Linked DNA regions of Homo sapiens. The protein of the gene in region 1 purifies or fractionates together with the protein of each later gene. This does not show direct contact. Each region holds a gene or a part of one and is shown on either strand. Other genes may lie near its edges.

Region 1 (3,649 bases):
CTGGACTTTCTCACTTCTAGGTTTCCAGGAAATAATCTGATGGGTCCTGCTTGGGGCAGGTGTCTACCCTATTGGGTGTTAAGTCACATGGTCCTAAGTGGGGGCCCAGGCTCACCCTTTCAGCAGGACTGGTCCACAGGGAAGAGCCAGTAGGCTGGACAGCAGCCAGGATGCAGTCAGGGGGGCCTGACAGGGTCAGTGGTGTCAGAACAACTGGCCAGGTCAGGACATGCTAACTTAGGAGTTGTTTAGAGTGTGACTGCACATTGCAGCTCTTTTTATGGAGAAGGAGAGTGCTGAAACGGAGGCTGCTACCGTGCATTAGCCCTGTGCGTTTCTGCTAACTAGGGGAAGATCCTAGCTACTTCTCACTGTGGTCTCCTGAGGCCATTGGCAGCTGGCCAAGCACCCCTGGTGAAGACTTATTAGCGTGGCTTTGAATTTTCATTTGTGGGTCATTGCGAGCAATTACACATTTATATTAACAATTTAATTTGGCTGTATGGTATTTTACTGGGCTAAGCCCTGTGAAAAATGGGAATCATCTATAGGGATCTGACATTTTAATTTGTGCAGTTGCTTAAAAACAAAAATCCATAACAGCAATGGATTTTGCTTTGCTTTGCAAAGTTTTTCATTTAATGATGTTTTAATGGGTCAAAGCCCATCCAAGCCAACAGCTCATGTTTCAGGGTCTGATTCTCTGAGGAGCTATGAATGGAGGCGTTCTCTTTCATTTCTTCTCTGTTCCCGCTTGCTCCCTCTCTCCTCCCTCACCTCCTCTAACCTTCCTCCTCTGCAGCGTTCTCACACTTTCCCGTCTGGGTAGTTTGCCAGTTCATTAACTGCTTTTCTTTTCTCCCTGGCATGTCTCATTAGCTACTGGTAGAGATGGCTGTTTGAGGGAAATAGTCTTAGGCAAAGGGTCCAGAAAGCCCAGAGTCCCCTTTGGGAGTGAATGTGTGGAGAGGGAGGTGTTAGGCAGAAAAGCCAAACTCTGCCTCCCTGCTTTCAAGTCTGCAGTAAGATCAGTCTCAGTGGTGAAACTCAGCCAGCAGAGGGGGTGAGTCTCAGCTGGGAGCTAGGCGGCCAGTGGGGAGGTGAGTTTCAGTCCCATTCGTGAAGGGTGGTGGCAGGACCACAGTCCAAACGTCAAGCAGGTCCCCTGTGAGTCAGCCATCTGAGTTGGCCCAAGTGAGACAGGACCAACTTTGAGGCCCCCAAAGGGTAGTTCCCGTGCCCAGTGGACTTGTTCTTCCTTACTTTGCCTCCCTTCTGTTATGGGTTCTCAAAATATGGCAGTCTTTTTTTTAATTTCTTTCTTTTTGAGACAGGGTCTCACTCTGTTTCCCAGGCTGGAGTGCAGTGGTGCTCACAGCAACCTCTGCCTCCTGGGTTCAAGCAATTCTCATGCCTCAGCCACCCGAGTAGCTAGGATCACAGGTGTATGCTACCACACCTGGCTAATTTTTGTATTTTTGGTAGAGACAAGGTTTTGCCATGTTGCCCAGGCTGGTCTCGAACTCCTGAGCTCAAGTGATCCACCCGCCTGGGCCTCCCAACGTGCTGGGATTACCGCTTGAGCCACCATGCCCAGCCTGTCATTTGTCCTTTTAAAAGCTCGTTCTTATTGCAGATTTAAACCTACATTTAGAAGCCCCATTCTGCCTTAAGAATATAGCCGTGGGGGCCAGGCACGGTGGCTCATGCCTGTGATCCTGGCACTTTGGGAGGCCGAGGCAGGTGGATCATGAGGTCAGGAGTTCAAGTCAGCCTGACCAACATGGTGAAACCCCATCTCTACTAAAATTACAAAAATTAGCTGGGCGTGGTGGCGTGCACCTGTAATCCCAGCTACTCAGGAGGCTGAGACAGGAGAATTGCTTGAACCCGGGAGGTGGAGGTTGCAGTGAACCAAGATTGCACCACTGCACTCCAGCCTGGGCAACAGAGCGAGACTCCATGTCAAAAAAAAAAAAAAAATATATATATATATATATATATATATATATATGTGTGTACAGATATATATATATACATACATATATATATATAGAGAGAGAGAGAGAGAGCCATGGGGGGCTGGGCGCGGTGGCTCATGCTTCTAATCCGAGCACTTTGGGAGGCCAAGGCAGGTGGATCACCTGAGGTCAGGAGTTCAAGACCAGCCTGGCCAACATGGTGAAACCAAATCTTTACTAAAAATACAAAAATTAGCTGGGCGTGGTAGCGTGTGCCTGTAATCCCAGCTTCTAGGGAGGCTGAGGCAGGAGAATTGCTTGAACATGAGAAGCAGAGGTTGCAGTGAGCCAAGATCGTGCCACTGCACTCCAGCCTTGGTGACAGTGAGACGCCATCTCAAAAAAAAAAAAAAAGAATATAGCCATGAGGATAGTTATTTATCTCAAGTAATGTGTTGCCAATATAATGTGAGCTTTTGTGTAGGCAGTTTAGTGTGTTGACTATGATGTCTCTTGTCTTAGTGGTCCTTGGGTTAATAATTTTAAAGAGCATCATCAGAGGGTGCTACAGACAACTTTCCCATCACCCCCCTGGGGCAGTGATGGAAGGGGATAAAAACAAGCTGATGGAGAGAAAAGGAGGGTGTTGGATGTGCTAGGTGGTTTCCATTTGCCTTTCTAGGTCCACCCTTCACCTGTTCCATTTGCTTTTTGCTCTGGGAGGCTGACATGTATGGACTACATGTGCATAGTATGGGTTGCATTAATGACTCTTTGTCTTCTGGCTTTGGTTGGGTTCAGCCATTGGGACATTGTGATAAGCCATTCCTGCATCACTGGAAAGAAATACCCAAGGCTGGGTAATTTATAAGAAAAGAGGTTTAATTGGCTCACAGTTCTGCAGGCTGTACAGGAAGCATTGCATGCTGTCGTCAGCTTCTGGTGAGGACCTCAGGAGATTTATAGTCATGGTGGAAGGGAAAAGGGGAGCAGACATCTCACATGGCAAGAGCAGGAGCAAGAGAGAGGGTGGGAGGTGCCACACACTTTTAAACAAGCAGATCTGTGAACTCATTCATCACCGAGGGGATGGCGCTAAGCCCTCCCACCAGGCCCCACCTCCAACACTGGGGATTACATTTCAACATGAGATTTGGCATGGACACAGATCCAAACCCTATCAGGCATCAGATGTTCAAAGCGAGGGAAGAGAGTGAGGTGAAGGTATGTATTCCTCTGGCTTCCTGTCTGTAGGGTCACCATGGATTGTGGCCCTAAACTAAAGGGCCCGGTTCCTGTCAGGTAACCCCTAGCTGCCCTCTCTGTCTCTGTCATTCAAGCTCAGGTGTGATAGCAGCATTCCCCACCCAGCCACAGAGGTACTATCCCTTGTGTTTTGCTGTGTTCTGTACACACCTTTGCACACACCCACTTTGTTATTACTTTAAAAAAACCATCAAATTTACCATTGTAACTGTTTTGAACTGTATAATAGTGTTAGCTATATTCACACTGTTGTGCAATATATCTCTAGAATTTTTCCATCTTGCAAAATTGAAACTTTGTGCCCACTGAACAACTTCTCTGCATTTTTCCTTCTTCCTTGTCCGCTGATAACAACATTCCACTTTCTGTTTCTATGAGTTTAACTACTTTAGATACCTCATATAATTCGTGGAATCATGCAG
Region 2 (3,649 bases), on another chromosome or scaffold:
TGCTAGCCTGGGAGTCTGGCCATCCTGGCTGCTTGGGCAACAAGTTCCTCTTGTGTCCATCCTGAGGACTTCCATTCTGAGCCTGATTATACTGAGCAGTCCAGCCGGGCCATCCTGTGAAAATGATGTTACTTTATTTTTCAGTTTTTTTCTTCTCCTTATCCAGGTTTACATCCCCACCAGACACCAGCTCCTCTGCCCAATCCAGGCCTCTATCCCCCACCAGTGTCCATGTCTCCAGGACAGCCACCACCTCAGCAGTTGCTTGCTCCTACTTACTTTTCTGCTCCAGGCGTCATGAACTTTGGTAATCCCAGTTACCCTTATGCTCCAGGGGCACTGCCTCCCCCACCACCGCCTCATCTGTATCCTAATACACAGGTGAGATGGCTAATGATCATGTTTTTCTAGATACACATTCTTTAATTCAGACAGGAATGTGGTATGGGGAGAATGCTAAAGGAATTTGAGAGAACATTTTCAGTGCCACTGATTTGTATGTGACACCAAGACGCCTCTTAGTGGTCAGGAGCTGGAAATGCAGCTTATGTAATGCCCATCATCTTTATTCTTTTCAGTTTTTTTCTCCGTTGCCCAGGCTTGGAGTGCAGTGGCGTGATCTCGGTTCACTGTAACCTCCACCTCTTGGGTTCAAGCGATTCTTCTGCCTCAGCCTCCCGAGTAGCTGGGATTACAGTGCCTGCCACCATGCCCGGCTAGTTTTTGTATTTCTAGTAGAGATGGCGTTTCACCATGTTGGCCAAGCTGGTCTCAAACTCCTGACCTCAACCGATCCACCTGCCTCGGCCTCCGAAAGTGCTGGGATTACAGGCATAAGCCACCGCACCCAGCGTTCAGTTTCTTTAATGGTGTTTCTTTCCTGTGTTGTGGTACATCATAGGTGGCAATACCTGGTTTTTACTCTATTGCATAAAGAAGCTGTATTCTACTCCTTATCACCCCTACCTCTGTCCTGCTTAACTTCCACCACGTTGACATAATCAAGTATCTGTAGTGTCGCTACTGAACTCAGCCTTTTCCATTTGTCAGCTGATGGTAGGAATTAGAGAAAGCTGGGCAGTACTTTGAAGAAATAAAAACCAGAGCATAATAATGAAGAATTAAGGCAAAAATGAATAGTCACTTTATTTTGAAGGGTGGGCAGATTAGATATTTTTAAAATTATAAATTCCCCAATTCTCTTATGGCTGAATAATATTTCCTGTTCATCATAGGTTGGATGAATTCATTCCTAACTTTTTCTTCTCCTGGCTTGTGGGGTCCCAGGCCCCATCACAGGTATATGGAGGAGTGACCTACTATAACCCCGCCCAGCAGCAGGTGCAGCCAAAGCCCTCCCCACCCCGGAGGACTCCCCAGCCAGTCACCATCAAGCCCCCTCCACCTGAGGTATGAGAGTTCCTTCCTATACTTAATGCACATGCTCCGTCAGTGGGCTTTCCTTCTCCCCAGAGGATTTCCCTCATTTTCTGGGTGTGTTTCTCTGGAAAACAGTCTTTTTGTTATGACCTGATAACAAATTCCAACTTTGTTATTTCAGGTTGTAAGCAGGGGTTCCAGTTAATACAAGTTTCTGAATATTTTAAATCTTAACATCATATAAAAGTAAGTGCACAACTTACTGTGAATATTGTTAAAACTAATGCTCACACTTGCTTAATAAACAAAAATCACTTAATTAATGCTTTTTTTTTTTTTTTTTTTTTTTTTTTTTTTGAGACGGCGTCTCAGTCTGTTATCCAGGCTGGAGTGCAGTGGTGCAATCTCGGCTCACTGCAACCTCCATCTCCTGAGTTCAAGCGATTCTCTTGCCTCAGCCTCCTAAGTAGCTAGGATTACAGGCACGCACCACCACACCTGGCTAATTTTTGTATTTTTAGTGGGAATGGGGTTTCACCATATTGGCCAGGCTGGTCTTGAACTCCTGACCTCAGGTGATCCACCTGCCTTGGCCTCCCAAAGTGTTGGGATTACAGGTGTGAGCCACCCCACCCAGCCTCTGATTAATGCTTTAAGTTATAATAATCATGGGATATCTCAGGAGGCTTAAAGGAGTCCTGAAATTTGCCAGTTTGTTTGTTTGGCAAGTGTATTGGGCAGGGTTGAAGTAGAAACGATTGTTAACATGACAGTTTTCAATTGGGAAGCTACAAGGAAAAAATACAGGAAGGCAGTCAAGGAAAAGGGAAATCTAAATTTGAGATGTTATAGCAGAAAAAACCAGTTCTAAAGATCATAGAGGAGAAGGACTGGGGGTTTTGTTGCTTTTGTTTAAGGACATTACTTAAAACACATTATTTAGAAGTGTGGCTTTTTGAAAACAGCTTGTGAATGCCCAGAAGGCCCACTAACACTTTGGTGGTTCTTCCCTTTTTCCAACCCCTGTCAGAGCAGCAGAGGTGAGAACTCAGAAGAGAAATACAGCTGGCTATCTACTACCAGAAGGGCTTCAAAGATATAGGGTGTGGCTCCTACCAGCAAACAGCTGAAAGAGGAGGACCCCTGCCTTCCTCTGAGGACAGGCTCTAGAGAGAGGGAGAAACAAGTGGACCTCGTCCCATCTTCACTCTTCACTTGAGTTGGCTGTGTTCGGGGGAGCAGAGAGAGCCAGACAGCCCCAAGCTTCTGAGTCTAGATACAGAAGCCCATGTCTTCTGCTGTTCTTCACTTCTGGGAAATTGAAGTGTCTTCTGTTCCCAAGGAAGCTCCTTCCTGTTTGTTTTGTTTTCTAAGATGTTCATTTTTAAAGCCTGGCTTCTTATCCTTAATATTATTTTAATTTTTTCTCTTTGTTTCTGTTTCTTGCTCTCTCTCCCTGCCTTTAAATGAAACAAGTCTAGTCTTCTGGTTTTCTAGCCCCTCTGGATTCCCTTTTGACTCTTCCGTGCATCCCAGATAATGGAGAATGTATCAGCCAGCCTTCCCCACCAAGTCTAAAAAGACCTGGCCTTTCACTTTTAGTTGGCATTTGTTATCCTCTTGTATACTTGTATTCCCTTAACTCTAACCCTGTGGAAGCATGGCTGTCTGCACAGAGGGTCCCATTGTGCAGAAAAGCTCAGAGTAGGTGGGTAGGAGCCCTTCTCTTTGACTTAGGTTTTTAGGAGTCTGAGCATCCATCAATACCTGTACTATGATGGGCTTCTGTTCTCTGCTGAGGGCCAATACCCTACTGTGGGGAGAGATGGCACACCAGATGCTTTTGTGAGAAAGGGATGGTGGAGTGAGAGCCTTTGCCTTTAGGGGTGTGTATTCACATAGTCCTCAGGGCTCAGTCTTTTGAGGTAAGTGGAATTAGAGGGCCTTGCTTCTCTTCTTTCCATTCTTCTTGCTACACCCCTTTTCCAGTTGCTGTGGACCAATGCATCTCTTTAAAGGCAAATATTATCCAGCAAGCAGTCTACCCTGTCCTTTGCAATTGCTCTTCTCCACGTCTTTCCTGCTACAAGTGTTTTAGATGTTACTACCTTATTTTCCCCGAATTCTATTTTTGTCCTTGCAGACAGAATATAAAAACTCCTGGGCTTAAGGCCTAAGGAAGCCAGTCACCTTCTGGGCAAGGGCTCCTATCTTTCCTCCCTATCCATGGCACTAAACCACTTCTCTGCTGCCTCTGTGGAAGAGATTC

The links.
Region 2: the proteins of FKBP9 (region 1) and CASC3 purify together in Homo sapiens (co-immunoprecipitation; 2 studies listed by BioGRID and IntAct, with this or other methods). This does not show direct contact.

The regions. Positions count from the first base shown.
Region 1 is NC_000007.14:32,963,831-32,967,479, forward strand, and holds part of FKBP9 (peptidyl-prolyl cis-trans isomerase FKBP9 isoform 1 precursor), read left to right. Parts: intron 1-3,649. UniProt on the Homo sapiens protein: PPIases accelerate the folding of proteins during protein synthesis.
Region 2 is NC_000017.11:40,168,037-40,171,685, forward strand, and holds part of CASC3 (protein CASC3), read left to right. Parts: intron 1-166; coding exon 167-381; intron 382-1,287; coding exon 1,288-1,410; intron 1,411-1,561; coding exon 1,562-1,585; 3' UTR 1,586-1,626; intron 1,627-2,410; 3' UTR 2,411-3,649. UniProt on the Homo sapiens protein: Required for pre-mRNA splicing as component of the spliceosome. Core component of the splicing-dependent multiprotein exon junction complex (EJC) deposited at splice junctions on mRNAs.